Linked DNA regions of Homo sapiens. The protein of the gene in region 1 purifies or fractionates together with the protein of each later gene. This does not show direct contact. Each region holds a gene or a part of one and is shown in the gene's direction. Other genes may lie near its edges.

What was found.
Region 2: the proteins of VIPR2 (region 1) and CIP2A purify together in Homo sapiens (co-immunoprecipitation; 3 studies listed by BioGRID and IntAct, with this or other methods). This does not show direct contact.
Region 3: the proteins of VIPR2 (region 1) and SURF4 purify together in Homo sapiens (affinity purification with mass spectrometry; 2 studies listed by BioGRID and IntAct, with this or other methods). This does not show direct contact.
Region 4: the proteins of VIPR2 (region 1) and ELOVL2 purify together in Homo sapiens (affinity purification with mass spectrometry; 2 studies listed by BioGRID and IntAct, with this or other methods). This does not show direct contact.
Region 5: the proteins of VIPR2 (region 1) and RABGAP1L purify together in Homo sapiens (affinity purification with mass spectrometry; 2 studies listed by BioGRID and IntAct, with this or other methods). This does not show direct contact.
Region 6: the proteins of VIPR2 (region 1) and DNAAF5 purify together in Homo sapiens (co-immunoprecipitation; 3 studies listed by BioGRID and IntAct, with this or other methods). This does not show direct contact.
Region 7: the proteins of VIPR2 (region 1) and PIGN purify together in Homo sapiens (affinity purification with mass spectrometry; 2 studies listed by BioGRID and IntAct, with this or other methods). This does not show direct contact.

The regions. Positions count from the first base shown.
Region 1 is NC_000007.14:159,110,078-159,114,521, reverse strand, and holds part of VIPR2 (vasoactive intestinal polypeptide receptor 2 isoform 1 precursor), read left to right. Parts: intron 1-4,444. UniProt on the Homo sapiens protein: G protein-coupled receptor activated by the neuropeptides vasoactive intestinal peptide (VIP) and pituitary adenylate cyclase-activating polypeptide (ADCYAP1/PACAP).
Region 2 is NC_000003.12:108,564,726-108,569,169, reverse strand, and holds part of CIP2A (protein CIP2A), read left to right. Parts: intron 1-855; coding exon 856-1,015; intron 1,016-2,531; coding exon 2,532-2,673; intron 2,674-3,715; coding exon 3,716-3,815; intron 3,816-4,444.
Region 3 is NC_000009.12:133,365,640-133,370,083, reverse strand, and holds part of SURF4 (surfeit locus protein 4), read left to right. Parts: intron 1-2,540; coding exon of another isoform or gene 2,541-2,638; coding exon 2,639-2,825; intron 2,826-3,408; coding exon 3,409-3,485; intron 3,486-4,055; coding exon 4,056-4,099; intron 4,100-4,444. UniProt on the Homo sapiens protein: Endoplasmic reticulum cargo receptor that mediates the export of lipoproteins by recruiting cargos into COPII vesicles to facilitate their secretion.
Region 4 is NC_000006.12:10,988,404-10,992,847, reverse strand, and holds part of ELOVL2 (very long chain fatty acid elongase 2), read left to right. Parts: intron 1-2,405; coding exon 2,406-2,530; intron 2,531-3,010; coding exon 3,011-3,145; intron 3,146-4,444.
Region 5 is NC_000001.11:174,277,303-174,281,746, forward strand, and holds part of RABGAP1L (rab GTPase-activating protein 1-like), read left to right. Parts: intron 1-1,310; coding exon 1,311-1,477; intron 1,478-4,444. UniProt on the Homo sapiens protein: GTP-hydrolysis activating protein (GAP) for small GTPase RAB22A, converting active RAB22A-GTP to the inactive form RAB22A-GDP. Plays a role in endocytosis and intracellular protein transport.
Region 6 is NC_000007.14:750,385-754,828, forward strand, and holds part of DNAAF5 (dynein axonemal assembly factor 5), read left to right. Parts: intron 1-4,204; coding exon 4,205-4,437; intron 4,438-4,444. UniProt on the Homo sapiens protein: Cytoplasmic protein involved in the delivery of the dynein machinery to the motile cilium.
Region 7 is NC_000018.10:62,102,613-62,107,056, reverse strand, and holds part of PIGN (GPI ethanolamine phosphate transferase 1), read left to right. Parts: coding exon 1-71; intron 72-175; coding exon 176-268; intron 269-1,422; coding exon 1,423-1,514; intron 1,515-4,154; coding exon 4,155-4,263; intron 4,264-4,444.

The DNA.
Region 1 (4,444 bases):
TTTTCCACTTTTCAGAGCGACCTTTGATTTTATGATCACCATCTGGAAAACCTAGGTTGCCACCAGAGCTTAACAAGTCCCATTTCCCTGACTGCCTTATCCGAGCACTTTTGTTTGTTTCTCACTCCATCTGCAAATCCTTTGTTTCATGAAATCTCAGCTGCCCACTGCTTTCCAAACAGACAGGCGTCTCCAAGTGGCTGTGCTTCTCTCGGGGGTGGCCCTGCCTGCCTCCCCTTCTCCTCCCATGCCGTCCTGTGCCTCGGCGCACACTCCTACAGAAGGACTTGCTGCCTCTCCCAAATTCGCTGCCTCTCCCAAAGGGTTCACTGTGCCAAATTTGAATCACTTATGTCCAACACTGAACTGATGACCTATTCATGCACTATTTTGCTTTGGCCTGCACAATGTTCCTTAAAAATGTAAACATTTAAAAATGGGTATCTTAATATAATGATACACTTTAAATGCTAGTTTTCAACAGAGTGCATTTATAAAATTGTAAAAGGCAAATGATACTACAAGGCTGTATGAAGATAATAGTCTCCGGCCCCTCGTCATCCCCAGTTCTCAGCCCTATGGCAGCATCTCTTTCATCTCTTCTCTGGTATTTATTTTATTTCTAAACAGCATACTTATGCTCCTGTTTCTTTTCTTTCTTCCTCCCAATTTACATCCCAGTGTCCATTAGATTTCTAACAAGAATAAAGATCTATCTCTCCTGTGCCATTCCCACCACCCAAGTATAATTTATCATCCTGCCAGCCTCCTGATAGACTCACTTCACATTGCTGGTGTACATCATTGCCATCACAGTTGAGCCACATAATATCCAGCATTTCCTTTCTTCATAACTTTATGCTTTTCCTCGTTTTTCTGTTGCTGGGTTTTTCACCTACCTCTCAATAATTAGGCATCAAACCTCAGGCCAGAACACTCTCAAGACACTGCACTGAGGTGGTCTCAGGGTTCCATTTTTTCTCTTGTAGCAGGACGAGCTGCAGACAAAACCCCTCAGACACCGAGATGGTGAAGGGAGTGGCTTTAATCAGCTGGAAGCATTGGCAGACTAGCGTCTTAAAATCCGAGCTTGTCAGGTGCACAATTTTTGTCCCTTTTAAGGGCTCACAACGCTAAGGGTTTCACATGAAAGGGTCATGATTGATTGAGCAAGCCAGGGGGTATGTGACAGGGGCTGCATGCACGGGTGGTCAGAGTGAAACAGAACAGACCGGGAAGTTTCACAGTGTCTTTCTATACAATGTCTGCAATCTATAGATAACATCAGTTGCTAGGTCAGGGGTCAAATTTTAACTACCAGGCTTAGGTCAGGCAGGTCCAGGCCTGGTGTCGGGTCTGGTTCCTAGGCGCTGGGCTACCTGCCTTTAGTTTCGCTTCTGTTTCCTTTTCTGAGTATAAAACAATCTAAAACAATGTGAGAGGGTCTGTCTCTCTTCTCTCACTCCTAGAGCCACTCCTTCTGGATTCCCCCTCCTTGCCAAGTCGGGATCCTTGAGCTGGGGTCTGGCCCCAGGCAGGCATTGTGAGCCTCCTGCTCACACAGTCGGGGTCCTCGGTTGGGGATCTGGCCCCAGGAAGGCGCCATGAGCCTCCTCCTCACGGTCAGGATCCGGTCCCAAGTAGGTCCCGTGAGTCTCCTCCTCACAGTCAGGGTCGGTCCCAGGTAGGCGCCGTGAGCCTCCTCTTCACAGTCGGGGCTCTCAGCCGGGTCCCGTCCCAGGCAGGCGCCATGAGCCTCCTTCTCACAGTCAGGGTCGGTCCCAGGTAGGCGCCGTGAGTCTCCTCCTCACAGTCAGGGTCGGTCCCAGGTAGGCGCCGTGAGCCGCCTCCTCACAGTCGGGGCTCTCGGCCGGGTCCCGTCGGTTCCCTGCAGCGTCCTCCACCCTTGCCGGTGCCGGGGGTACCGATGGCCTGTCTCTCGCTTCTCCCCCTCCTCTGCCTGCCTATTTAACACAGTTGCTTCTGTCTGCAAGGCTGTAGTGACATCTCTTGGTGCTGCCCTTTCAAATTTTTGGCTGTCCTTTGCGTGAGGTTGAGAAGCTGAGAGAGAAACTCCTGTGTTCCCGCCTGGCAGCTGTTGCCAGGAGGTTGCAGCCAGTGCCACGTGTGCGACCGGCACTGTGGCAGCGCTTCCGGCTGCGCCTTCGGCTGCACTTCCGGCTGCTACCTCAGCCTCGGCGCCCTGACGCCCTCGAGTCCGCTTCCTCACATCCTGACAGCGTCTAGCTCTGCTCCCTCACGTGCGGTCCAATAAAGGAACAAATGAAGAGAAGACTTTCCCTGGCCATTGAAGGGATCAGATGATTAGCTCTAGATGTTTAAATCAAATCCTACTGTAATGCAAAGACTGTTTGATGTGGTATGAATTTAGTATCTCTGTTGAAATTTAAAGCAGCAATTAGTATTATACAGTATATAATTATTGCATTATAATTTGTATTATGTATTAGTTATCTTACTATACATTATCTTATTTATTGTTTATTTATTGAGACGAGGTCTCGCTCTGTCGCCCGGGCTGGAGTGCGGTGCCATGATCTTTACTAACTGCAACCTCGACCTCCCAGGCTCAAGTGATCCTCCCACCTCAGCCTCCCTAGTAGCTGGGACTATAGGCATGCTCTGTTACCTCCAGCGAATTTTTAAATATTTTCTGTAGAGATGGGGTCTCGCTATGTTGCCCACGCTGGTCTTGAAGTCTTGGGCTCAAGGGATTATCCCGCCTCAGCCTGCCAAAGTGTTGAGATTACAAACATGAGTCACTACACCCAGCCCATTATTTTAAAATAACAATATTATATAATTATTGCTTTTTTTTTTTGAGACGGAATCTTGCTCTGTCACCCAGGCTGGAATGCAGTGATGCGATCTCGGCTCACTGCAACCTCCACCTTCTGGGTTCAAGCAATTCTCCTCCCTTAGCCTCCTGAGTAGCTGGGATTACAGGTGTGTACCACCACACCCGGCTAATTTTTGTATTTTTAGTAGAGACGGGGTTTCACCATGTTGGCCAGGCTGTTCTCACACTCCTGACCTCAAATGATCCACCAACCTCATCCTCCCAAAGCGCTGGGATTACAGGTGTGAGCCACCACACCCAGCCATTACTATTATCAAGGTAGAAATTTGTCATTTTGTGATAAAAAGCTGAACCTTCAAAATAACCAGACACGAAACTGCCAGAGCTTGCTGTTTTATAGGAGATGGACAGAACTTTGCTGATCACATGCAGAGTCTTCACTTGGAGGCCTAGACATCTTCACTTTCCTCTCCATCTTGTTCACTCTTGGCTAGGAACCCCATCCTGACACCTCTCCACCACCTGCCCTACACACCAGAGTTAGAAGTGCTTGGTTTACGAACTTAGCATTTAAATAACTCTACTACTTAGACTCTAAGCAGCCTTACACGGGGGCTCACGCCTGGAGTTTCTAGTGATGCATTTACATTTGATCACTTGTTTTGAACATTTTAAAAGAAAACCAACATTTTCTTTAAATATGTTAACATTAATGTAATATGAATTTATGTACTTATTCAAGTATTGGTATGTAATTTTATTTTATAATAAATATATTTTCACTTTTATTGAAAGTATTTAGAAACTATTTTCATCTGCAAAACTTAGCTTATGGCCAGCTTTTCAGAGACATTTCTGTATTCTTGAAAGTAAAACACTCCTTTGTTCACACCAAAGCTGTGTGTTCTCTATGGATGTATTCCTGCAATTATTGCACAGGTCTGGGTGGCATGTGCTGAAAGGAAAACTGATTGTTTGTTTGTTTGTTTGTTTGTTTGTTTGTTTTACCGACCAAGGCTAGCACATTGCTTTTCTGATACTGAGGTTTAAGTAAAAGGTAAAATTTTAGAGGTCTCAAATATAGTATAAATACCATGGACAAGTAGGAAAGTCCTGGGTTTAACATGCATTCCATCACTGTTGTGTGATATTGAGAATTCATTAAAAGATTTGAACCTTAGTGCTTTTCATCTGGAAGATAATTAATGCAACATTTTTATATCTAACCTTCACCAGGTGGTTATTAAGACCAAATAGTAGGTCTAAAAATGTTTAAGCTATGCATTATGCAAATTATTTGACAACTCCATGAAGGTAACCTAAGATTTTGTTGCTAATAAGGCATCTTGACAGTGAAAAATCAAACAAATATTATCAAATACTTTTATTTGCAAATAATCATTGAAGTCAGATTCCACAGAAGCACAAGCACACTTTCCCTGGGCGTCTCCCTCCCCGACGGGGCCTTACACTAATACCCAGTGGTGCCCATTTCATCACACTAGGAAATGCTGATCACAAGAAGTAAGTAATGATTCTCTTAAAATTCAGAAGGTACATGGTATACATTGAAGTACTCAAATGCTTTCTACCACCATATGGTTATTCCTCCAAAGCTAATTG
Region 2 (4,444 bases), on another chromosome or scaffold:
AGTGCTCATTTCAGTGTAATAAGTAAAGATATTAAAAAGATTTATATAATTTGTTGCCTGACTACTGGGGATAGTTACATTGTCTCTCCATTGCAATAGATGCCATCTACCAAGTTTAGTAGGCCATTGAATGGACAATAGAGGCATATTGGATTCAGTCAGTGAAATGGAGTAGAGCATGCCAGATAATGTGCTAGGCACTTAAGATACAGACAAAACTCCACATTCTGGTAGATCTTACTATCTGGGCAATTTAATATTCTCTACTATTCTCCCTGTTTATAAATCCATTCTGTCTAACCCAATATCTCCTGAAAGTATTTCCCTTCACATAACTGGGTCTTACACACAAACAAATATGTGTATGAAGTGATTAAATATGTTCATTAAGAATTATTCACAAAATTTTCTATTTTATCTTGGTCTTGATTATTTAACAATCAGTTTTAACATTTAAAAAGCCCTTTGAGGGTCTTGAGGGAAATTATTTGTGGTCATAAACTATTAAGACCAATGTCTATTATTTAATTATTGTTATTACTTTTAGCAGATTCAGGATATTTGTTTTCAGTAGATACTTTTAGTTTAGAATAATTTTTAAATCACAAAGTCTGTTTAAAAAAGTCTTATTTGTAAAACCTTACTGTCTAATTTGAGAAAAAAGCCATAGCCCTCAAAACTGGTTAGAAGTATAAATTTTAAATAAAAATTTAAATATTCACAGGAGACTTAGGTCAATGGCATATTGAAGGAAATATAAAAAATTTAAAGAGAGTGTTACAATTCAGTGATGACTTTTTCTGTATTGTATATTCCATCTTTGCTTTTAATCATTTGTGATGGATAATTCTCCAGGATGTCATAGATGCTGCTAACTGTTCCTCGGCTGATCGTTTTGTGACCCTTCTGCTGCCTACAATCCTTGATCAACTTCAGTTCACAGAACAAAATCTAGATGAGGCTTTAACAAGAAAAAAATGTGAAAGGATTGCCAAGGCCATTGAAGTTTTGTTAAATATCCTTTACTGTCATTAACGTGAAAACTGTATAACTAACCATTCTTTTTTTTCTAGTATTGCATTCACTGCATTTTGTCTTTATTTGTAATTTGTCACTTTATGCTCATATTTATCTAGAATTACTGAACTAAAATTTGAACTGTAGAAAAAATTCTCAATGAGTGAAAAAGATCCATGATTTTTTTTCCTTATTTTTCTGTGTGAAACTTTTAAGTTAAAGTACATTTTTTAAAATGCTGTTTAAGCTTGATTTTGACACTTGTATCACAATTTGACATTTGGTGGTAAATTCTAAAATGACTATTCTGTTACTCCATGTTACTGTTTTCTGCTTGATGCTAATTATTTCCCCTGGACGGACGATCAGTAGTGCCATTTTTTGGTGATGTGTATTCGTGGATAAAGAAATGCTGATAGAGTTGTCATGATTTTAGCTCAGTTGTTTTACCTTATGTTTTAAAAATAAAGCCTTCATAATTGCTTTAATAATGGTTATAAGAAAAGACAAGTATATCAACACAAATTCATTCATTTAAAAAGAAACCTTTTAGTTTCACTGCTTAACTTCTATATACTGATTTTCTAGGTCTTCCTTGTGTTTACTTTTTCATAGACCAACTAATTCTGAGTTGCTGGAAGTCCCAATTTTAAAATATTTCATTAATACTTTTTTACTATGAGCAAAGAGCCACTGTATCTCAACCAGATCTCTTAAATGTATCTAGTCAGGTTTCCTTGTATCTCAGAGCAACAAGAATATGTTCTACTCTGTCCTAGAGCAAACTCCACCCCTGTTTAATATCCTCTTCTAAGGTACTGCTCCTTAATTTTCTTCCTTTAAAGCAGTGACTTTCAACCCTGATTTCCTACCTAAAATCACCTGGAGAACATGTAAAAAAAAAAAGAAAATCGATGCCAGAACCTTACTTCAAGAGTTTCTAATTTAATTGGAGTGATGTGAAACCCTGAAATCATTAGGTGGTGTGTGTTTGCATGTTGGCTTTTTTGTTTGTGATTGTTTAAACTACCTGGTTGATTCTAACATGCAGCTAAAGTTGAGAACCACTGCAGTAGGGATACATGATTGCTTGACCTTGGAGATATTTATAATTAATAAAGTGGGGCCTTCTCATTGAATTGGACCACAACTTTTAAAATAATAGCTATTTACATTAATTTATAATATACAAATATGACAAAACAACTTACCCTTATTCAATAAATATTTATTGAACCATTGAGATTCTTGCTAACAAAAAACAGACATCCAATGGAAAGATATCCTCGCTGTTTTAACCATTGAGTCAGAAACCTTTGGTGCCAGTCCATCTCTTACCACTTGCTAGTCATTTAAATTGTGTGAGTTTCAGTTTCCTTGTTTGTCATTGAGCTAATTTAACAATAATTATACTGGATGACAGTGATGATATAATTTGTATGAAATCATCCTGAATGTTATCTTTTACACATAAAGTGAGAATTTTTTTGTTGTATATCTTAACAAAACTTAACCTCTCTGTGGAGATGATACACTAAAAATGCATATTGCAAAAATCTTGACAACTGTCAAGTGTACCACTCTTATAGAACAACAATTTACATATGGCAAGATTGACCTGGGATTTGGAACAAAGGTTGCAGATTCTGAATTATGGTGAGTATATAAACTCTAATGACAAAATGGCAAGGCAGTAAAAAATCGAAAGATGTGGTGATTCTCATCCTTTTGGAGGACCATCCTTTGGTTATAACTTAAGATATAACAGATTAACAAACATATTTTCATAATGAATTTTTTGTAAATTCATTCAATTTGTAGATTGTGTGCTTTTTGAAGAAAGGTATTAACATTTGTTGTTTTTTATTGTTTAGGTTTGTTTTGTCTTGTTTTAACTTACTATAATTATCTAAGGGTTCTGAACATTTCTGGAGCTCCTTTTTGACATTGCCTCAGTAATCAATTTTACTTTTTTAAATGAAAAGCATGAAAAAACAGAAGAGTAGTTTTATTACAAGGAAATCAGTCACTGCTAAAGGCTTTTTAATAACAGACAACTCTCCTTCCTTGGCAGGTCAGGAATTATGGTTAAAGGTGGATTTTCACTGATGGTAATAAGATATTACTTTATACCCCTTCCCTCCTCATGAATTAAGTCCATCTAATCTTTACTGAGGACCTGCTGAGTGGTAGACACTATGATTTGTTTCTGTTTCCACAGATGTCACAATTGTCAGTAATTGTGGACCTTTAGAGTAAGAATTATCTGTTTTTATATTTGTATACTACTTTCAGGTACAAAACTCAGAACATGACCTAGTGTAATTCATTCATTACGTATTAGATATTCTATATTGCCTAAGGTTACCGTCTGTTGTTGATATTCTAGTGACAAAGCTAAGAATTAAATGAACTGTGTTTCGAAACTACTACTTACTTGAAACAGAAAGTTGAAGCAGGTTGGTAGTAAAAGAAACACTGTCTAAACTAAGGCTATTAATGCCAGTTTGTTCTCTTTGGATCTTGAGTTATAAGAATGTTGATTGAGATTTTTACTTCTCAATAGAAACAGGACTTTATCATCTTGAATTTAAAAAACACAAGTGTTGGTTTTTTTCATTTTCTTTAGAATTTTGGACAGAAACAAGCTCTAAGAAATTTTTCAGTTATCTAATTTAAATGTGATTTATCTTTAAAGCAAACTTGCTGCTGATGTAATTTTGAAAACTCTTGATTTGATTAACAAACTTAAACCATTGGTTCCTGGTATGGAAGTAAGCTTCTACAAAATACTTCAGGTGAGTTTAAACTCTTCAAACATTGAAGTTTATTCATACATAAATGGTCCTAATATAAGTTTCTGTTTTAATATTCTTAATCTTTAGAAGATAATTCTCTTAGAATTGGCAATGAGAAGAAAGTTTAAAGTTGTTGTCTTAAGCAGTTATAATAGTCTCACTGCACAGTTATTTTATATACTTTCACAGGAATTGAACATAAGTGCTCATGACACTAATGTAGAGAATGTTCACAATAGTGCTGCTTCCTCAGCCTTTTCCTTTCTTGTGTTGTATTTGTATATTTCTTCATTTGTTTCTGTTGGCATTGGAGGAAGAGTGATATTTGTTTTAGGGTTTTTGTTTTTGGTTAGGGTTGATGTAGGGTATTAAGGGGATAGGGAGACAGCTGGAAGAAAAGGATTGTGATAATTAGAAGGGCTGTGCAGAAAATAGCTAACTCACAAATTTCAATGATAATAGTAGCTGAATATGATCTCTAGCTGTTATCAAAAGGCAAAGTACAACAAATTTAGTTCAAAGTTCTAACTGGCTTTTATTTATGATTCTAGAATTTGGCAGCCTCATTCTATAAAATAGAATGAATCATTCCCCTGGGCTAAGCAGAGAAGGTTGACTTTATAGACCAG
Region 3 (4,444 bases), on another chromosome or scaffold:
GCTGGGCTGGTTTGCTCATCTCAGGCCAGTGAGTGGCTCACAGCTCTCATTTTAGAAGCAAGTCAGAACACCTCTGGTGTCTGTCTTGGGTATGGATTGCAGTCTACCTCTCTGCTGCTGTTGGGGTCCACGCCCCACACCCACACCCTGCCCTGGGAGTCCCACCACGGCTCCGTCTCATCTCAGAGGTCTGGACAGCCTCCTGTTGAGCTCTTCCTTCCCAGTGGTTGCTTTTCCCCAGGTTCAGATGAGATAAAGGCTTGTGTCCTTGCTGGGGCTTCCCAGCTGGGCCACGATGTGAGGCCATTCCTTGAGAGCAGTGGCACATCGTGTGCCACGGTGGTGTGCTTTCTCTCTTCCATGGAATATGGGTGATTACACTGTTGCTGGGCATTTAGAGAGCAACGGGGCCATGAGGCAGAACCTGGGGAGGGTGTGTGGCGTCACCTTTCCCACCACCCAGTGTGATGCAGGTTGCGTCACACTGTGCACATGGGCATCTTGTGCTGGTTCTCTGCATTGGCCCTAAAATTCACAGGGGAGTATTTGGGGCCTTTTTAAAAATAAAAAGTGAAACAAGGTCTTCCTCCTAGTAAAGTTGGAAAGCATCTTACCAACCATTAGTTCAGGTGGCCTCACTCTACTGCAGGATAGTAGAGACACTCTCAAAAAAGTAACTGGGCGTGTCCAGGTCACACGGTGTGCTGGCTGGATGGTACCAGGGCAGGATGAGATCACAGGGCCTCAGAACCTCCACCTGCACTTCATCTCCCAAACCCACTTGGTGATTCTCTGGGTATCTGTCGGTCACTGTGATTTCTCCCATCACTTCCGTGGAGTCAAAGGCTGAGTAAATGTGTGCAGAACTGACACTGCAGGGCGCAGTGGGTTTGGGGAGAATGGCCACCTGGCTTTGTAATCTCTGCCTCCGTTCTCTGCCACATGGGAGCCAATCTGCAGTGCTGACCTAGTCAGGGCCCCACCTGACAGGCTGGAGGGTGACCTGAACACCCAGGGGCGTGGTAACTGAGATGGGCAGCTTCAGCAGTGTCTAGGACTTTGAAGCAACTTTTAAAAATGCTGAAAAATAAGAAACACGCATATCTTCCTTTGTTCCAACAGTAGGTTTAGTCAGCCCTAGGAGGCCTGTGCAGCTGACGTTCGCTCGCCTCCCGTGGGGGTCAGCCTCTCGGGTGCTCTTTAGACTCTGGCTTCCCAACATGCGTTGGTGGATGGGTCCCCTGATCTTTCTCCGAAGGACTTGCTGTGTTACAGTATTTCTTTCACTTTATATCTCAGTTTTGCATGGGTGATAAGAGAAAAGTGCATGGGGTGAACCTGCGTGACATTTGTACCTGGCATCCGATAGTGCATGTTGGCTACCTAACCCAGCCGTCATAAATGACCTGACTCACAGCACAGCAGGAAGTCATAAATGTTTTCTTTCCCTTTGACATTTGACAGTGATTTCACACACTTGCGTTTCATTGCTGTTGAAACAGCTGTCCATCCCATTTGTTAGTGTGTTTTAATTTGCTCGAGATTATGCAGGCTTTGACAAAATCCCAGCGCTTTCTAGCCATTAGCGGTACCAGCTTCATGCTGCGCTGACGGTTGCTGCACACACAGTCCCCACGTCAGATCCTGAGCTTGCAGGGGAGAGCTCCGTCGGGCTGGGAAGCGCCAGCCCTGGTTTGCAACAGCACACATGCGCTGTCCAGAGCCTGGGGCCTCCTCCTGCTGCTCTGGAGATTTTCGGATAACTGTAAACGTGATCTTACTATTCAGTCAACCATGTGGCCCTCTAGGTGTGGCACCCTGGCTGTCACCTAAGCCAACCCTTGTTCTGTCAGGGTACTCTGGGCGTCACTGGGCAGGCTGGGAGGTCCAGGCCCTTGGCACCTCAGCCATGTGTGACCTGCAGGCTGGGGTCAAGTCTTGGCATTGCACCATCAGGTCTGCGAAGCCTAGGGGAACCCCTTCCCGCTGGGTTTAATATAGCCATTTGTAAGGTGAGGGGTTGGACCAGAGCAGCGGAGATGCCTGGCAAAGTGCAGCGGTGCCTCAGGAGGGAGGCTGCTGCTGGCATGTCGTGGGCAGACATGTCGTGCGTCATAGCCTGCAGCACCCAGGATGACCCACGGCAAAGAGTGGCCTGGCCTCAGATGCCAGTAGTGCTGAGGTGCAGAAACGTTGGATAGATGACCTCTAAGTGCCTTTTCAGATGTCATTCTGTGATTCCAACTTGTAAATGCCTTTGACCGAAAAGAGCAGCTCTGTGTCTTGTGGCAGTGCCACCTTGGAAGACTGTAGTTGCCTGCCGAGGCACTGGGGGAAATCACGGTAGCAGAGTGTTAGGGCTGCTGCCCTATAGGATCTGCCCCAGAGGGCCTAACGTCAAGTCATGCATCTCCGGGACTGATCCTTGGATTGTTGCATGTGTCCAGACTCACAGGGTAGCGCTCAGGAGCAAGCACTGAGAGCCCCCTAGTCTGCCCTGGGAAGGCACCGGGGCTGACAAGAGCTCTTGCCTTCCACAGCGTCTGTTCCTCACACACCCCGCCCAAGGACGTGCCTGGCAGCGGCCTGGTGCTCCCCGCCGCAGCCACCTCACCCTTGGGTTTCTGTGGCCCTGCAGTTCCTCCGTGTCACAAAGCAGTACCTGCCCCACGTGGCGCGCCTCTGTCTGATCAGCACCTTCCTGGAGGACGGCATCCGTATGTGGTTCCAGTGGAGCGAGCAGCGCGACTACATCGACACCACCTGGAACTGCGGCTACCTGCTGGCCTCGTCCTTCGTCTTCCTCAACTTGCTGGGACAGCTGAGTGAGTGGCTCTGCGGGTGGTCAGGATTCACTGGGCGTCTTGTTCCATGATCGTTAGCAGTTGGGAGGCTGTGTGTGAACTCGGGGGTCTCCTGGACTGCTGTCCCCCCTCCATTCCCCTCTTCTCCAGCTCAGCTGTGCCAGGCCAGGAGTCCGGTTCTGCAAGCCTTGGTGGGGACGCTTAGTCTCTAGCCCTGAGCTCACTGCTTTAGAGCTTGCTAAGGAAATAGGACATGGTCCCTGTCAGGGACCCAAAGCAGGAGATGCTGGAGTCTGGCTGGCAGTCCACAGTAGAGCAGTTAATTGCCTACCTCAGGTGGGTGGCTGACTTGGGAGCTGATTGTGGGAAACAGCCCATTCTTTATGACGGCAAGGGCTCCACTTTCTGGTGTTTGTGATAAGTCTAGTCAGCTTACCATGTGTGGTCCTTGCCTATCATTAATTCTTCCAGAAGTTGTCTTTTGCTTGGGTAGGTGGTTTGGCTGCCTCTGGACCTAAGGGCCAGGTGAGGTAGCAGTGTATCAAGACAGTGCTCCCCGCCGGCACCCACCCTCAGGCCCCCTAACCCTTGTCCTTCTCTCCAGCTGGCTGCGTCCTGGTGTTGAGCAGGAACTTCGTGCAGTACGCCTGCTTCGGGCTCTTTGGAATCATAGCTCTGCAGGTACACGGGCCGCGTGGTCGGGGCTCCCTTCTCTTTGCTCTGGTGGAGCAGAGCTTCTGAAAAGACATCCTTGAGGGTTCAGTGTCACTCCCCCTTCAGCCCCCTGCATGTCTCTGACTGCCTGGAGCTCCTTTCTCTTCTGGGGAAGTCGTGAGCCCAAGCAGGGCTGTAGAGGCAGGTCATTCGGTACTGGGCCATCTTTTGTCCCATTTCTATGATTACCGTGACAAGGGAAGTCTCGAGCTTGGCTGCAGCCAGGATGCTGTCTTGTTATCACGTTGCTTCATAAAGAAGAATACTTGGTTATTCAGAATGAAATGCTGGGAACAGAATATCTGAATCCACATCAGTGGTCTCAGAATCACTTTGTTCTCTGGAACATCATAGCACATTTCTTGAGAAATACAGAACCACATTTTTGAGCTTAGATCTGTCCTCGGTCTCCTACAATGGTTTTGTGTGTTTTAGACTCCAGCTGACATTGGAGAGACGGCCTAATGTATTATGAAGTCTGTGGAAATGCCTTTGGAAAGGCTGAGACTCAAGTATCTCTCTCTTCTTTCCCCTCAGACGATTGCCTACAGCATTTTATGGGACTTGAAGTTTTTGATGAGGTATGTGCATTCTGGTTGGTTTTAGTATACGCTCCTTCTACAGGTTGAGCATTGCAAATCCAAAGTCTGAAATGCTCCAAAATGGGAAAAATCTTGGGCACCAACATGACGCTCAAAGGAAGTGCTCATTGGAGCATTTCAGGTTTTGGATTTTCAGATTTGGGATGCTCAGCCAATAAGTATATAATGCAAATATACCAAAATCTGAAACACTTTGGGTCCTAAGCATTTCAGGTTAGGGATACTCAATCTGTATTTCTAAACTCAGTTAACTATTGGTTTGAGTAGACTTCTCTGGGTCTAAACCAAGCTTGTCCAGCCTGTGGTCCACGGGGTGAACATGGC
Region 4 (4,444 bases), on another chromosome or scaffold:
GATGTACTGTATATATTTTTTAATCCTGTTTTTTTTTGTTTTTTTTTGTTTTGTTTTTTTTGAGATGGAGTCCCGCCCTGTCGCCAGGCTGGAGTGCAGTGGCACAATCCCGGCTCACTGCAACCTCTGCCTCCGGGTTCAAGTGATTCTCCTGCCTCAGCCTCCCGAGTAGCTGGGATTACAGGCGTGCGCCACTACGCCCAGCTAATTTTTGTACTTTTAATAGAGACGGGGTTTCATCATGTTGGCCAGGATGGTCTTGATCTCTTGACCTTGTGATCCGCCCGCCTCGGCCTCCCAAAGTGCTGGGATTACAGGCGTGAGCCACCACGCCCGGCCTAATCCTGTTTTACAAAGAGTTGATGACAATTCTCACTGCATTGACTTCACCATTCACTAATGGGTCAGTTATGACCTACAGTTTGAGATGCACTGAGCTATAGGGAACAGTACTCTCTATTTGATACTGTCTTGTTCTCAAGAATTTAGAAATACAATATGAAAAATCAGAACATGTAAAACTTCAGTCAAAATGACTTTGTTCCAGGATTTAGGATCTTGTAGAGATGATATTAGGGAAAAAAGTGCCCAGAGATATTTGGAGTATCAGTGACTGTGAAGGTACAAATGAACACTAGAGTGAGGGAGGAAATTGCTGTGAGTGCAGGGGGAAGAAAGAAAGAATTGATCTCTGTCCTTCTAGACGGGTAGACATCCATTTCTTGAGTTTAGTTATTAAGGAAGGACAACTATAATCAATATTAGAGGAGAATTACCAAGGTTAAGTATTTTTATGATTGTCAAGTTTCATTACAAATCACTAAGCATCTAAAACCCAAATCATCACTGTGTACAGACATAGTCCTGTAAATACTGTGACAATTTCTGCTTAAGAATATTAGAAAAATGATACTTTGACCTACCAGAGCAGACTTTCAATTTTTTGAAATGCCTTAATCTGTATCACAGTGAAATGGTGACTGTGGAAGGTGCTGTATTTCCACAGGAGTCAAACATAAGCAACAACTACTCATGGTTCATTAATTGATGGAAATGAAAAGTCATGTAGGTAAAGAAATACCACTAATACTATGCTGCTTGGTAGTCTGAAACTCTGTTTGTGTTTTCATATAAATTCAAGCGCCGTAACAGTTTATTTCAGCCAGTATTGGTTGAGAATTTACTCTATGCATGCTATTGTACCTTTTGTTTCTTATTTATTAATTTGCATTTAGCTATCCAGATCACTAATCTAGGATTAAAGAACCAGGCTAGGGAATTTAAATTGATTTATTAGCCAGCATATGTGCGGTGCTTTTAAATTCATATATTATCTCAGTTAATTTCATCCCAAACTTAAGAGCTAGTTATTATTATTATACCTATTTTCCAGGTAAGAAAATAAAAATTTACGTCAAATCAATGTCTCCAAGGGGACATAGCCAATAAATGGCCCTCTAATGCCACAATCCCTCCCACCACAGGATAGCTCGCAGAACAGCCATCTGGATCCCAGGCTGACAGCTGAAGAGCATTCACTTTGTGCCAAGCATTGTTCTAAGCACTTTCATGTACTGATGAAATCCTCACAACACTGAGTTTCCTTATTTCCAACAAGTGATGCATCTGTGGCATCTCACCTCTTGCAGCTAAATCCTTTCAATGCTTAGCTGACCCAGCATGGTACATGACCCTTTCTCCATGGTTTCCTGAAGCCTTATTCACCTATGGTGGAGGCAGTTACAGAGACGTTTCATGAGGTTGATGGCAGGGGCCTGGATTTTAGACATCCCTCATCCTAAAAGTCTCTGCAATGGCCAATCACTGGGAAGGTCTCGCTGGCCAGTTTCTCCGCCACTCCAGCCTTCTCTGTCTCCTTTATTCTTTCTCCAGCACCTCCCGGTCCCTAAGTGTCTTTCAGGCAGAATTTATTTACTTAATTATGAAAGCAATATATTTTGTCTCTCTAGCACCCTGTTCAGCCATGTACAAAAGGCTCTTTGTCAATATGTCTTATCAAAGGTTTAGCTAAAAAGCAAAGACAATTCTATTTCAGAGGAATTCTGCCAACAGCTTTAAGCTAGTATTTCTTTTCCTCCCTCAGTAGCTGATAGTAGTGACGGTTAAAGAGACAGTAAAACCTCGTAGATAAGGTGTTCCCCTGTGTGGCGGGGGGGGGGCATTCTGAAAAACCATCCCAGGCTACTCCTTCTATCATGGAGTTTTTGGTGAATCCTAGAACTGGCACAGTAATTGGGGAATTTATTAGTGTGGATTTTGTTATATGATCATGTCATATGTGCTACTCATTTTCAATTACCATGCAGAGAGAGAATCTCACTTGACAAAGAAGAATGAACAGTCCTTCCTGGAAGAATAGTGATTTTTATACTGTACTTTTATAGGTTTCTTTGGACCAACACTGAACAGTTTTATCCACATTCTTATGTACTCCTACTATGGACTTTCTGTGTTTCCATCTATGCACAAGTATCTTTGGTGGAAGAAATATCTCACACAGGCTCAGCTGGTATGTTGTCCCTTCTTTTAGCTTTTCTCCATGTGGCTTATGGATGGGGAAAGGAAATAGAAATCTTAGAAGTCAGAGGGCTTTTTATGTGTGATGAGGCTGCCCATTTTTTTTCCAAAATTGGCCTTTTAAGAATTAAACTTTTTGTGTTGAAATGCCCTTTGTGCATGCTATTAGCTTATAATGGAAAGTTCCTTGCTTTGAAATGTAGATGATTACTTTTCAAATTAATGTGTAAGTTAAATCCTTTTTGTCTAAATAATTTTAACTGCGACTTTTCCATGAGGAAATCATGGGCAATTTCACATACTAATTTCAAATAAGATTTCTGGATGAGGGGGCTGCTTCAGCAGCTTTGTTTTGTTCCTACATAATTCCAAGAGTCCTAGGAGTTGATTTCTGAATTGATCAAGCTTGGCCGCAGTGTCTGTGTGGCACAGCCTGGCTCGCTCACAGAGATGCCCTCTCTGCCGTCCCCAGGTGCAGTTCGTGCTCACCATCACGCACACCATGAGCGCCGTCGTGAAACCGTGTGGCTTCCCCTTCGGTTGTCTCATCTTCCAGTCATCTTATATGCTAACGTTAGTCATCCTCTTCTTAAATTTTTACGTTCAGGTACGTGGAATGTAAATATTCAGCAGTAAAATGTAATCGATTGGCACTATTTTTTTTTTTTTGGAGACAGAGTTTCGCTCTTATTGCCCAGGCTGGAGTGCAGTGGCATGATCTCAGCTCACTGCAACCTCCGCCTTCTGGGTTCAAGTGATTCTCCTGCCTCAGCCTCTCAAGTAGTTGGGATTAGAGGCCCGGCTAATTGTTGTATTTTTAGTACAGATGGGGTTTCGCCATGTTGGCCAGGCTGGTCTTGAACTCCTGACCTCAGGTGATCTGCCTGCCTTGGCTTCCCAAAGTGCTGGGATTATAGGCGTGAGCCACTATGCCCAGCCTAGATCATGCACTTTTACATTACATATTTGTTTAATTTTACTGATTAAATATTATAGTAGCACATGCTTGTTGATAAATTCAGGTAGCAGATACACAAAGTGAAATTTGCACTCCTAACTCCTCTCTCCACACCCTCCTCCTCAAAGGGTAACCACAGTTAATAATCTAGTGGGCATTTTTAAAAACATTTTTCAATGCATACACATAAGGTTTTATCAAAAATATCATTGGATTATATATACAGTTCTCAATTTGCAGTATGTATTTGTACCATGCTACCAAAGTCTGACATCTGAAAGTTAAAAACGTGTATAGTAAGACAGATCCAGGAAATGTGAATGGAGCAAAGCAAGGGCTTCTTCAATGTTTTTAATTTATTGAATTTCATGTTTAAAAATTGGTTCCTTATCAGCTACCCTGATGTTGCAGCCTCACTGTTTGTTTGGGAACCAGGATGGAAAGGCCGCACCGACGTCTTTATCCAGTGTCATTTTCTTTTTAGTTAACAACTTAAATGGAAGACAGCTTCAAAATGCAGTTTCAAAGCCACTCTGTTGTACAAGAACGGATGAAAGCTATAACAGAGAAGAGGCCTCAGGTGGATGTAGATTTTAAATTGCTCTCTTTTGTAGGCTGGGGAAATGGAAAGCTTAGTTTAAAAAACAAAGTACATTTATATTCAAAACTATACTTTTGAAATTGTATTCAACTGTATTTTTTTCAGACTAATAAGAAGTGCTTTACTTTTTAGTTTGCACTTGCTGAAAGTTAACCCATAGTGGTTTTTATTTTTATTTATTTTTTTGAAACAGAGTTTTGCTCTTATTGCCCAGGCTGGAGTGCAATGGCGCAGTCTCGGCTCAACACAACCTCTGCTTCCTGGGTTCAAGTGATTCTCCTGCCTCAGCCTCCCAAGTAGCTGGGATTACAGGCGTGTGCCACCACGCCTGGCTAATCTTGTATTTT
Region 5 (4,444 bases), on another chromosome or scaffold:
CTGTAACTTCTTTCTTATACTTGTTCAGAAGGAAGCCACAAAAATGATAAAAATAAGCCAGTTGACAGTTTTGAAGAACAAAATATAAGAATTTTGCATATCAAGTTATAAAAATAGTTTTTATGTTTTTAATGTAACACCTAGTTTAGTTTTATTTTGCAATAAAATATATATTTGGTCCACAAAAGAAAATTTATTTATAATTTATTCTATTAAACTATATAATAGTATATTATAATATTCTGATTCAAAGTATACATTTTAAATTTAACATTATCTCATATGCCACACAAAAATGTTGCCCTGATTTTTAAAATTTCTAAATTATGTCCTTGAAATTACACATTACTCAGAGAATGTGTGATCAAATAAAGTTTGATTTTTATGGAAGAAGTTTAGAACCTGAGAGATGAAAAGTCTTGGATCTTTCCACTGCACTAAGATCCAGTTGAATGTTATATTCTGTCTTGTGTTATTACTCCTTACTCCTTTCTCTAAGGTCCTCCAGGTCAAGTATAATGTCTAACAAATTTTAGTTTCTCTTGAATTGGCAGGTGTATTTAGTAAGACTGTATTTAGTAAGAATGTAATAAAATTGTTATTGAATTTGAGAAGTAGTTGATGAATCTGAATGTTATATAATATTTAAAAACACTATTGAGGGTTTCTTCTAGTGGTGGCCTTGGTTATTTGGACTTTCCTTTAACAGAGAACTAAAAATTGTAAAGAAAATAAATTTTAAAAAATATTTAAAAAGGAATGAGGAAATTACAAAATGGTATGGAATGACCAGGCCATAGATTCAAAAACCTCAATGAGGCCAGGTGTGGTGGCTCACGCTTGTAATCCCAGCACTTTGGGAGGCTGATGGGGGTGGATCACCAGAGGTCAGGAGTTTGAGACCAGCCTGGCCAACATGGTGAAACCCCGTCTGTAGTAAAAATATTTTAAAAATCAGCTGGGTGTTGTGGCGGGCACCTGTAATCCCAGCTACTTGGGAGGCTGAGGCAGGAGAATTGCTTGAGCCCTGGAGGCGGAGGTTGCAGTGAGCCAAGATCGCTCCATTGTACTCCAGCCTGGGTGAGACTCTGTCTCAAAACAACAAACACTTAGGATTATTAGTTCCTAAGAAACATGCTTGGAGTACTTGCATACTTATTTAATCAAAATGTGAATAGAACAGTTAAAAATAAACATAGAAGGTATTACAATTGTAAAGAACTTTAATTCTTTCATAAGTGAGGAAACTTTGTTTAAAGTAGACAAGGAATAATAAAGCTCGCATAAAACCCAGAAAATTTCTACTACAGATAAGCAAGTATACATGACTGTGGCAGTGGATATGGTAGTCACAGAGGTGGTGGAGCCTGTTCGCTTTCTCCTGGAGACAGTAGTCCGTGTGTACCCTGCAAATGAGCGATTTTGGTATTTCAGCAGAAAGACTTTCACAGAGACTTTCTTCATGAGATTGAAACAGGTAGGACCTTTTTGTTCTCTTCATATATAGTAACAAACATTTTTCTTTCCACACTTCTTTTTTAATGCCAAGATAATTCCTGAAGTTGCAAAACAATACAATTCCTCAAAGAAATCAAATGATATTTGAAGTCAACCAATAGAGTGTTTGAAAAAGTCACATCTAGGTAATATTAGCTAAAAAAACCCAGCAAGTTTAATAATTACATACTTTTTCCCTAGAAACCTGTAATGTATGAACCTTCTTAACAGAAATATTGACTGCATATAAAACAACGTTTCTGCCTTTTATAAACAATTACTTAAAACCAAAAAGGCAGTGCACAGAAATATCATATGCTTATAAAATTTTAATGAAAATGTTTCTAAGAAATACCTAATTTCTATAGTTATTTCTGCCTGTAATATTAGATAGACAATATTATATGAACATCTTGTTTGACTCATCAGTGAGGTTATAAAATTATTTTAATATTAAATGAACAAAATTATGGTTTCTATGATATCCTCAAATTAGGCAGTATTAGTAGATAAAATATGTAACTTTTGTATTATAGCAAAGGAAGCAGATAATAATGAAAAATAACTTGAATGCTAATTGTGTGAGTTTTTAAAAAATCAGGATAAAAATGCTCTATTAGAATAATGAACATCTTTTATATGCTGTTTTTGTTAGTACTTTCATTCTCCCAAGTTTTAAAATGCTTGCTGCTTCATATACTATAATATGTGGACTGCTGTGTGATAAAAGCAGGCACCAGTACAGGAAACAAATATAGAAGCCTCTTACCCATTTTCATATTAAAAAAACTGCCATGGCGCATCTCGGCTTTATATACTATGTACTTGGAAATTATTGTGGTTTTAAAAAAATCTTTCATAAAATTATTATGGCTGTTATTTGACTCAGTTTTTATTACTGTGTGAACTGCTTTTATAGCATATTCTAATGAAGGTTATGTGAGCAATATTCAAACTTCAGTCTCCTGAGCATCTTTTAATATTTTATTATGAGACTTTTTTCCTGTCTTCCTTCCTCCCCATCCTTCTTTTTTAAAAAAATAGCTTAGTTATGACTATCCAATAATTCTTCATTTTGAGCCAAAGAATTATTCATAGTTGCATAATCGTGAATAAAGGAGCTGGAGCTGTATAGAAAGTTGTCATTCTTCTAATGATGATAAATTATAATGTAAATTATACCTCCTAGAGATCTGAGAAAATGTTAGGTTTTTCCCAGTTCTAGTACTTTTGACTGTCTGTCTGCCTGGAGAGAGAGAGAGAGAGAGAGAGAGAGAGAGAGAGAGAGAGAGACATTAAAGTAATTGTTAAAATTCATGTAAGTAATTATTGCAAGACCTGAGACTATAACTCCTTACCTTAAGCCAGAATATGCTGCTGTAAGGCCAGACTAGCTTCTTTCTACACCTCCAAAAGGTGGGTTGGTTTGGGGTGGTTGATGGTAATCTGGAGATGTTGGTCTACACTATACAACATTGGTAGAAAGAATGAATTAGGTGATTACCTAATGCAATTCAAAGTAACCTTTGAAAATCTGGGTCCAGGCCATTACTACTTTAAAGAAATAAAGAGAGAATGCATTGATTTCAGTTCTAAGTGATTTAGACACCTAGAACTTTTTCTTTCATTCTGAGAGTGTTGAACTTATTGAATGAAACCAGAACTTGTCCTGTACCCAGACAGGATTAGACCAGACTCCTGGGGGCAACACCAAAGTACATGAGATGCCCTGTTCCCAAACTATTTTTTCTTGGCAACTTTCTTCTCTCAAATATAGCAGAACTTTATGTGTGGGCAGTGGGGATGTATGAAAGTCTGCTTTGTTCCTGTTTACTGTCCACTCAGGGCCAAATGGCATTTCATTTCATTCATTGTCCATTTACTGGGAGCAAGGAGAGCACTTAACAAGAGGATGGAAACTAGAGTCTGGGAAAGTAAACTAGAGGCTGGGAAAGTAAACTAGAGAAAGTCCTTTTGTGTCCGGAATTGGTTCCTTTCAGTGGGTTCTTGGTCTTGCTGACTTCAAGAATGAAGCCGCGGACCCTTGCGGTGAGTGTTACAGTTCTTAAAGATGGTGTGTCCAGAGTTTGTTCCTTCAGATGTACAGATGTGTCTGGAGTTTCTTCCTTCTGGTGGGTTAATGGTCTCACTGACTTCAAGAGTGAAGCCGCAGACCTTTGCAGTGAGTGTTACAGCTCTTAAAGGTGGCGTGTCTGGAGTTGTTTGATCCTCCCGGTGGGTTCGTGATCTTGCTGGCTTCAGGAGTGAAGCTGCAGACCTTCGCGGTGAGTGTTACAGCTCATAAAGGTAGTGCGGACCCAAAGAGTGAGCAACAGCAAGATTTACTGTGAAGAGCAAAAGAACAAAGCTTCCACAGAGTGGAAGAGGACCCGAGCGGGTTGCTGCTGCTGGCTTAGGTGGCCAGCTTTTATTCCCTTATTTGGCCCAGCCTGCGCCCTGCTGATTGGTCCATTTTACAGAGCACTGATTGGTCCATTTTACAGAGCGCTGATTGGTCCATTTTACAGAGTGCTGATTGGCCTGTTTTTACAGAGTGCTGTTTGGTGTGTTTACAAACCATTAGCTAGACACAGAGCACTGACTGGTGCGTTTTTACAGAGTGCTGATTGGTGTGTTTACAAACCTTTAGCTAGACAGAGTGCTGATTGGTGCGTTTACGCTCCTTTAGCTGGACAGAAAAGTTCTCCAAGTCCCACCCGACCCAGAAGCCCAGCCGGATTCGCCTCTCACCTTGACCTGAGTCTAAGGGGAGTAGACATTAATTAGGTGTAAGTGGGAAACACCAAGTATAAATGCCCAGAGAACTAGAAAGACTGGGAAGCACAGTAGCTGATGATGAAAGGCAAGTAGGCCCCTGGCCATGTGAAACTTTGGAGTCCACGTTCAGAGTTCTTTTCTAAATCAACTTTATTGAGGTAGTTAGCAT
Region 6 (4,444 bases), about 160 Mb from region 1:
AACGCTTGACTGTACCAGCGGTCCCCTGCCATTTTGGCACCAGGGACTGGTTTTGTGGAAGACAATTTTTCCATGGGTGGGGCAGGGAGCAGGGTGGTTTCAGGTTGAAATTGTTCTACCTCAGATCATGAGGCATTCAATTCTCATAAGGAGCACGTAACCCAGGTCCCTCACACGCACAGTTCACAGGAGGGTTTGCCCTCCCCTGAGAATCTCATGCCGCCACTGATCTGACAGGAGGTGGAGCTCAGGCGGTCACACTCCTTCACCATCTGCTCACCTCCTGCTGTGGGGCCCAGTTCCTAACAGGCCTTAAACCAGTCCCAGCCTGTGTCCAGGCCTTGCGTACCCCTGCCCAGCACCGGCCAGTATTTCTTTGGAAACACCCAGAAGCCCAGGTGCCCACAAAGCTCTGTTCAGCTGTCAGCAGACCCCTCCCCGGCTGTTCCTGGTCACGCATCTCTCATTTTGCAAACTTTCCAGAGCGGATCGTCATCAGGAAGAAAGGTGCAGCTGGGCGTGGTGGCGCATGCCTGTAATACTGAGGTCAAGAGTTCAAGACCAGGCTGGCCAACATGGTGAAACCCCATCTCTACTAAAAATACAAAACTTAGCCAGGTGTGGTGGCATGCACCTGTAGTACCAGCTACTCAGGAGGCTGAGACATGAGAATGGAGAATTGCCTGAACTCAGGAGGTGAAGGTTGCAGTGAGCTGAGATCGCACCATTGCACTCCAGCCTGGATGACAGAGCGAGACTGCATTTCAAAAAAAAACGAAGAGAGGTGTGTTTGCACCCTGGCTTTTTTGTTTTTTACAAAATGATGACAGGATCATTTAAACAGCCAGCAGAATTTTAATTATTTGGAACTAATTCCATAATACAGGATAAAAACAGAAAAATAACCAGAAAAAGGTTAAAAATGGGGTGTCCTGGTACAAGCTGTTCTTATTAAAACATACCCTTTAGCCTGGATGCAGTGGCTCACACCTGTAATCTTAGCACTTTGAGAGGCCGAGGCAGGAGGGTTACTTAAGCCCAGAAGGTCAGTGCTGCAGTGAGCTGTGATCGTACCACTGCACTCCAGCCTGGGTGACAGAGTGAGACCCTTTCTCTAAAAATAGAAAAAGACCCTTTAAATCCTGACATATCATGGTTTCATTTCTATCTTTACAGTTGTTCTGAATTTTTTTTTTTTTTTTTTTTTGAGATGGAGTCTCACTCTGTCGCCCAGGCTGGAGTGCAGTGGTGTAATCTTGGCTCACTGCAACCCCCACCTCCTGGGTTCAAGTGATTCTGCTGCCTCAGCCTCTGAGTAGCTGGGATTACAGGCGCTCGCCAGCACGACCGGCTTATTTTTTCTATTTTTAGTAGAGACGGGGTTTCACCATGTTAGTCAGGGTGGTCTTGAACTCCTGACCTCAGGTGACCCGCCTGCCTTGGCCTCGCAAAGTGCTGGGATTACAGGCATGAGCCACCGTGCCCGGCCTGAATTTTGAAGATCAGAATCTTTTCATCAAAGTCCCTGAAGGCTTTTCTGTAGAAATCGACAAACTGATTGTGAAATTCTCGTGGGCGTGCAAAGGACCCACAGCTGCCGAAACACTGGGGAGGAGTGAAGCTGAATGGCAGCAGGTCCTGGGTGCAAGACTCACAAAACCACAGTCATGGGGCCACGTGGTGTTGGCTTTCAGACCGATGAGCAGAACGAGAGCGTCCAGAAACAGGCGCCCGCACGCGGACCACTGACTTGATGAAGGCTCAAAGACCATTTAATGGCATCTTTTAATAAGGATACTGTAAATGATAGGATCACTCATACACCAGAAAGTGAACTTGGAGTCAAAAAATTAACCCCAGATGCGTCAGGGATCTGAAGGTAAAGCCCAGAACCGCAGAGCTAGGGCGAAGCCTTTGTGACAGTGGGCCGGGCCACACTTCGTGGGATACGTCCTCAAAAGACCGCAGAGTGATGACGAAGCCTTTGTCACCGCGGGCCGGGCCACGCTTCCCTGGGTGCATCCTCAAAAGACTGCAGAGTGACGACGAAGCCTTCGTGACCACGGGCCGGGCCACACTTCGCGGGATACGTCCTCAAAAGACCACAGAGTGATGACGAAGCCTTTGTCACCGCGGGCCGGGCCACGCTTCCCTGGGTGCATCCTCAAAAGACTGCAGAGTGACGACGAAGCCTTCGTGACCGCGGGCCAGGCCACGCTTCCCTGGGTGCATCCTCAAAAGACCGCAGAGCTAGGACGAAGGCTTCGTGACCGTGGGCCGGGCCACGCTTCCCTGGGTGCGTCCTCAAAAGACCGCTCTGTAACAGGGTAAAGCAATGTGTGGACTTCATCAAAATGAACACTTCTGCTTTTTCAAAGGCCTGTTGAAAAAACGAAAAGACAAACCAAAGACTGAGATGTTTGGAGATGATGTATGTAAGGATTTATCTCCAGAGTATAGGAAGAGCTCTTGAAACTCAGCAGGAAAACAATCCATTTTTTTAAATGGGCAGAAAACAATTTGGAAAGACCCTTTACCAGGGAAGATAGGCGGCAAACAAGCCTGTGAAGAAGACGCTCGGCGTCGTTAGTCATCGGGGAATGCAAAGGAAAAGCACACGGAAATGCCACTGTGCCTCTCGGACTGCTTTCAATTCAAGACTGAGCGTACCGCGTGCCGCTGAGAGTGGGAAGGAGCGCGGACTGGCTCAAACACTTTGGAAAATGGTTGGACAGTTTCTAAAACAGTTAAACGTGCACCTTCCCTGTGGCCCAGCCCTTCCACAGCTGGTATTTGTCCCGGCACAGTGAAAGCCCAGGCCACACAGACTTGCCCTGGACACCATTTGAATGCTTCTCCACAGAGGAGCGGGCACTAAACTGGCATCTCCCCAGAACAGGCCACTTCCCAGGTTCAGAAAGGAGCGGGCACAGGCGGGCCTCAGAAAACGATGCAGAGTGAAAGAAGCGGAGAAGGGAGGAGAGTGAACGAGAGGCTTCCACTTGTGTCAGGCTCTAGAAAGTGCAGCTCAGTCACGGGACAGATCCAGGGGTGCCGGGGTGCCTTGGGGGCTGCAGTGCAGAGGAGCAGAGGAAGCCGGGCGAAGGACGCAGCTGTCACCCCCACCATGCCGATGGCTTCGCAGCCGTGTCTCTCATATGGCGATGGCTTCGAAGGCATGTCTCTCTGATCATATGGGGACGGCTTCACAGACGTGTCTCTCATCATATGGGGACGGCTTCACAGGCGTATCTCTGTCATCATATGGCGATGGCTTCGCAGGCTTGTCTCTCTGATCATATGGGGACGGCTTCGCAGGCGTGTCTCTCTCATATGGGGACGGCTTCGCAGGCGTGTCTCTCTGATCATATGGCGACGGCTTCGCAGGCGTGTCTCTCTCATCATATGGCGATGGCTTCGCAGGCGTGTCTCTCTCATCATATGGGGATGGCTTCGCAGGCGTGTCTCTCTGATCATATGGCGACGGCTTCGCAGGCGTCTCTCTCTCATCATATGGCGATGGCTTCGCAGGCGTGTGTCTCTCTGATCATATGGGGACGGCTTCGCAGGCGTGTCTCTCTCATCATATGGCGATGGCTTCGCAGGCGTGTGTCTCTCTGATCATAGGGGGACGGCTTCGCAGGCGTGTCTCTCATCATATGGCGATGGCTTCGCAGGCGTGTGTCTCTCTGATCATAGGGGGACGGCTTCGCAGGCGTGTCTCTCTGATCATACACGTCAGCACGTGTGGCAAGTGTGTTGTTTGCATCTCTGTGTGGCTCTAAATGTTTGTTTTTTGAGACAGGGTCTCGCTCTGTCACCCAGGCTGGAGTGCTGTGGCGCAATCCTCCCACCTCAGACTCCTGCGTAGCTGGGACCACAGGCATGCACCACGGCACCTGGCTAATCTTCCTGTTTTTTATAGAGATGGGGTCTTTGCCATGTTGCCCAGGCTGGTCTTGACTTCCTGGGCTCTAGTGATCCACCTGCCTTGGCCTCCACAGGGCTAGGACTGCAGCCGTGCACCGCCTCTGTGAATGTTCTGAACGACGGGGCATTTGTCAGCTTTGCGTCCACCCCAAGACTTGTTTTGAAATGGTGAGGTTGAAACTCACAGGTGTCCCTTAAATGTGATGTGCGGTAACTTGAGTTGTTGAGGTTTTGCTTGTGAATTTCTCATTCTTCTTTCCCTTTTTCGTTCCAGAGCGCCGCCCTGTGCTGGGCTGCCGGGAGCTCGTCTTCAGGAACCTCTCCAAGATCCTCCCTGCCCTGTGCCACGACATCACCGACTGGGTGGTGGGGACCCGAGTGAAGTCGGCACAGCTGCTCCCAGTGCTGCTGCTGCATGCCGAGGACCACGCCACGCAGCACCTGGAGGTCGTCCTCCGGACCCTGTTCCAGGCCTGCACCGACGAGGAGGCAGCCGTGGTCCAAAGTGTAAGTG
Region 7 (4,444 bases), on another chromosome or scaffold:
CAGTGTTGACCTATCCTCTGAGCCATTTTGTTGGGTACCTGTTAGCCTTTACCCTGGGAATTGAAGTATTAGTAAGTAACTTACCAGATTACAACATTTGCAAATTTCTTTTATATATTTGTAACTAGTATTAAATGACCTTATTTTTCATTCCTTCTTTGGAATGCATTACTAGGTTCTCAGTTTTTTCTACCGCTATATGCTTACCGCTGGACTTACTGCCTTTGCAGCTTGGCCATTTCTCACTCGGCTGTGGACTCGAGCAAAGGTATGAGTACTCATTTTGACATAGGACAGATTAGTAACTACTTTGTTTTGACACATGTGTAACTCAAGGAACTGTTTATTTTTAAAGAAAAGGGTAGAATGTGTTCTTACATAAAAGAGCCTAGTCATATTGATAGGAGGACTGACATTACCTGTAAGGTTTCAGTAATTCACTTAGACTTTCACATCAAAATGGGCCAGTTATGTGGTAATTGAAATGCTATATAAGTTGTACTGATATGTCCATCTCTGAAGCATTTCCTGGATTTGTTTAGCTTCAAATATCTTGATAATGGACCAGGCAAGGAGTCGTCCAGAGCAGCACAGCCCAGTGGCTTAGGGGTCTGCACTCTGTGAGTCACAGGAAACACCTCCCTCGTTACCCTGAGCCACTCAGTTTTTTTTTTTTCTGGATAAGTATGTATTTATTATAGATTATTAAAAATATAGTCAGTCTTGATTTTCTTCCTTCAGCTACATAGGGAATTACAATGTGCTTCTACAAAGAATGCACTTATATTTCCACTTTGATACTTTTTGATAGAAGTAGCAGGAAGATATCTTCTTTCTACTCTGAGAATTTATTAAAAAATCTTCAATGAATGGGATTATCGATCTTTTAATTTGTGAGGGATCTTAATCTAATTACAAAAGTAGTTTTACTTATTTTCCTTCTGGGCTCAGTTGTTTGGTGATTATTGTAGGCCACCTTTTTTATAGATGTCTTCATCAATATATGGTCTAACCTAAATTGAATGAAGCACTTTATGCAGGTTTAAATACTGGTTATTTTATTTACTTGTCATGGACCTGGTACTACTTATATTTTAACTTCTCTGAGCTCTGTTTCATCATCTGATGTATTGGGAATGATAATACCTGCCTCTTGAGGTTATTGTGAGAATTAAATGAGAAAGTGCTCATATTATACCTAATACTATACCTGCTATGCAACAGGTCCTTCACAAATAGTAACTATTACTTTTTAAAGTAGTTAGCTGTTGATTCTGCTAGAAAGTATTTGAAAAATAAAATAATAAACAGCTGTAAGGCTTTGCATTTTCCTTTTACCTTCACAGTCATATAGTCTGTGAAACACTAATGATAGTTTTCTATACCATATTTGTCTAAAGATAACTTTTTTCTTGATTTTAGATGACCTCACTGAGTTGGACTTTCTTCTCTTTGCTCCTGGCAGTGTTCCCACTGATGCCGGTTGTAGGTCGAAAGCCAGACATCTCTCTAGTGTATGAATAATATTGTATTTTATTCTATTTTCAATACACTTTTTTTTCCTCAATTAACACTGTAAAATTTGAACCTAATCTTGGTCAAGAATATAAAATCATGTGAACTAACGGGAATTTAAAATACCAATATCAAACCATTAGTCATGATTTTGGCCTAGGTTCTAAGAGTCATTAAACCTCCTAGTAGGTGCTTTCGGGCTTTCATAATGAAATTGTGCCACTGATAACTTAAAATCCCGCCCATTTTTTTTTGTTTAAGTCTAGAAGGTTTTCTTTCTTTTATGCTTGGAGGAATCAGTAAAAGTTTTAGTTTCATGTGAAAAAACATTCTGTTGCCAAAACAAAAATGTCTCAAAGCTACTGTGTTAGCCCTCTTTGCTTTAATCATGTCCACACTAAAATGTCATGTAAAAATTAAATTTTCTGCTATTCTAAATTGAATGTAAAGATCTCCATGGGAGGAAACTCTATTCACCTTGCCAGCTTTCCCATGTTTAACCACTCAAATTGTTTGAAAATTCTTCTGCATATCTTACCTAAATTCCTTACTGTGCTGCTATATTTATTTCTCTTCAATAGACCTAAATAAATTTATAAAATAACTGGTTACCTTTGCTTTTAACTGCACTTTATTGTCAAGTAAATTATGGGCTGTTTGAGTGTGCATATGATCATTATTTCATTTAACATTTCCTCTCTTATTGTCTAATCATGGGAATTAGAAATTAAATCATCTTTGTTACTTTCTTCAGAATGCTATAAGCATTTTTTAAAACATTCTAACCAAGTCTGTAATGGATAATGGTATATATTTTTAAATCAAGGAAGATTAACTAAATACTATTTTGTAAAAATATGTGCTGATTTATGAGATTCTATACATTTTCTCCTATTTGTATGAGAATACCAATATGCAATAGACCAGGAAATATCCCAGGAAGTCACTTTATTAGCAGAGCTCAAAATAATTGTATTGAATTCTAACACCATACTATCTAAGCCATACTTTATTAGAGTGTTACTAGGTAAAAACATTTTGCAACTGTCATAACCTATAAATAGTATATGACAAAATGAATTCCAATATTTTCATTTATTTCTTGCTTCAGATAGCTCTGTAAGCTCTTGTATTGTTTCTATAAAGCCCCTTTCCTTCCCTTTGTCAGTCTCTGCCTATCAGTCCTGCTCAAGCAGTATTGCCATAGTTGAGCAGAATTTATCATATGCTAAAAGGGAAGGAAATTGTATAAATTTGCCACTTGCGTATTCTACTAAAGATGAATGTGGGAAGCAAATAAACTTGTTAAAATATGAGAAATCTAATTTATATTTTAGAAAATTATATTGTTTCCCTCTAAATTTAAATTGCTCAGTGACTTTAAGTTTATCCTACTAGCTATATTTGCAACTTATTTATTTTGATTCCTGGTTCATGGGGAAATTTCTACTCTCCTTTTCATCTGTCACAGCATCTCCCTTCTTCAGAAAATCACAAAGATGTGATTTTGTGAAACATTTAAGGATACAATTAAAGGAAAAAGCAAACGTGTACAACATGGTTGTGATGTCTGTTACTCCAGTGTTCTAAAGTAAAAACATATTTGCCAATAAGTTTAGATACCAAATTATTTTAAAAATTAAGAAAGAGAAAAAAAGCAAAGAATCTTGATCATATGTGACTATTTTTTCCTAAATTTTAATGATAATCCATGTTGAATATATGATTACCTTTCTCCTTAGGATTCTCAAAGAGTGTATTTGAAGCATCACAACCAACCATCAAGCATTTTTCTGGGGATTCCTGCTTTGCATTCTTCTTAGGTGTCCAGCTCTGCTTTTTGCTCTTTCTTTTTTCTCTTCAACCAATTCCTTTTCTCTTAGTTCTATTTGGGTTCTGGATTTCATCCTCAGCATAATTCTGGCTGTGCTATGTTATTCAGATGTTAAGGAGGTGAGAAAGAGCTCAACAATAGGGCACCATTTCCTTGGTATCAGTCACCTTTGACTTTAGGAAACATACTATACCTGGTGTGTTTCCTTACTGTTATTTCATTACTGTACAAATGCCTCACCTGCATGCCACCCATGTGACCACTGCCTACCCCTTCCCTCAGCCAGGAGCAGCTGAGGAAAATACCAAGGTCTGTCACAGAAGGGAGCTGTTTTTCCTGCTAGAAATAATGTGGGTTATATATGTAGATACTTTTTGCATGAGTAAGTTTCATAATCACAAAATACATGTTGTAGATACTGATAATATACTTGTTTAGCTATCTTTTATATTGTAAATTTTTGTAAATTTGCCCAATTCAGGCTAAATATTATAGTATTTGATATGCCTAAAATTTTTTTAAATTAAATTATAGAAGCAAGGTAGAGATACTTAGAAAATTGTGGGGAGAGGTTACAAATAACCCCATCCAGCAGTATCTTTATCCTAAGATTAAAAGTTTTCTTAAAATCTTAAAACTTAAAAGTTTTCTTAAAAATCTGAAAATGTACCCATTTTGCTACTTCCTCTTGATTAAGCCAAATGACTGAGAGGTTCTGTATTAGAGTAAGATGTCTCATATTTCCATCTGATATGTGTTCGTAAATATCTGAAGAAAATTTAAAATTAATTGTATTTCAAAACAGGATGGGTGCAGGCTTGCTGGTTCTTCTGTTATCCCTGTGTGTTGTAACATCTCTCATGAAAAGAAAAGATAGCTTTATAAAGGAAGAGCTATTGGTACATCTGTTACAGGTCAGTTACAGATTTTCAATACTATGTTATACTAATGATATACTGAAATGTGTCTTATGGTTATATTTAATTATGTTCATAAAATGCCATTACCTTTATGCTACTTAGTATCTGCCAGCTGAGAAGAAAGCTTTCATTTAAGATGCTACATGGAAATGTGTTCTTTAAGAGGTATGAAATA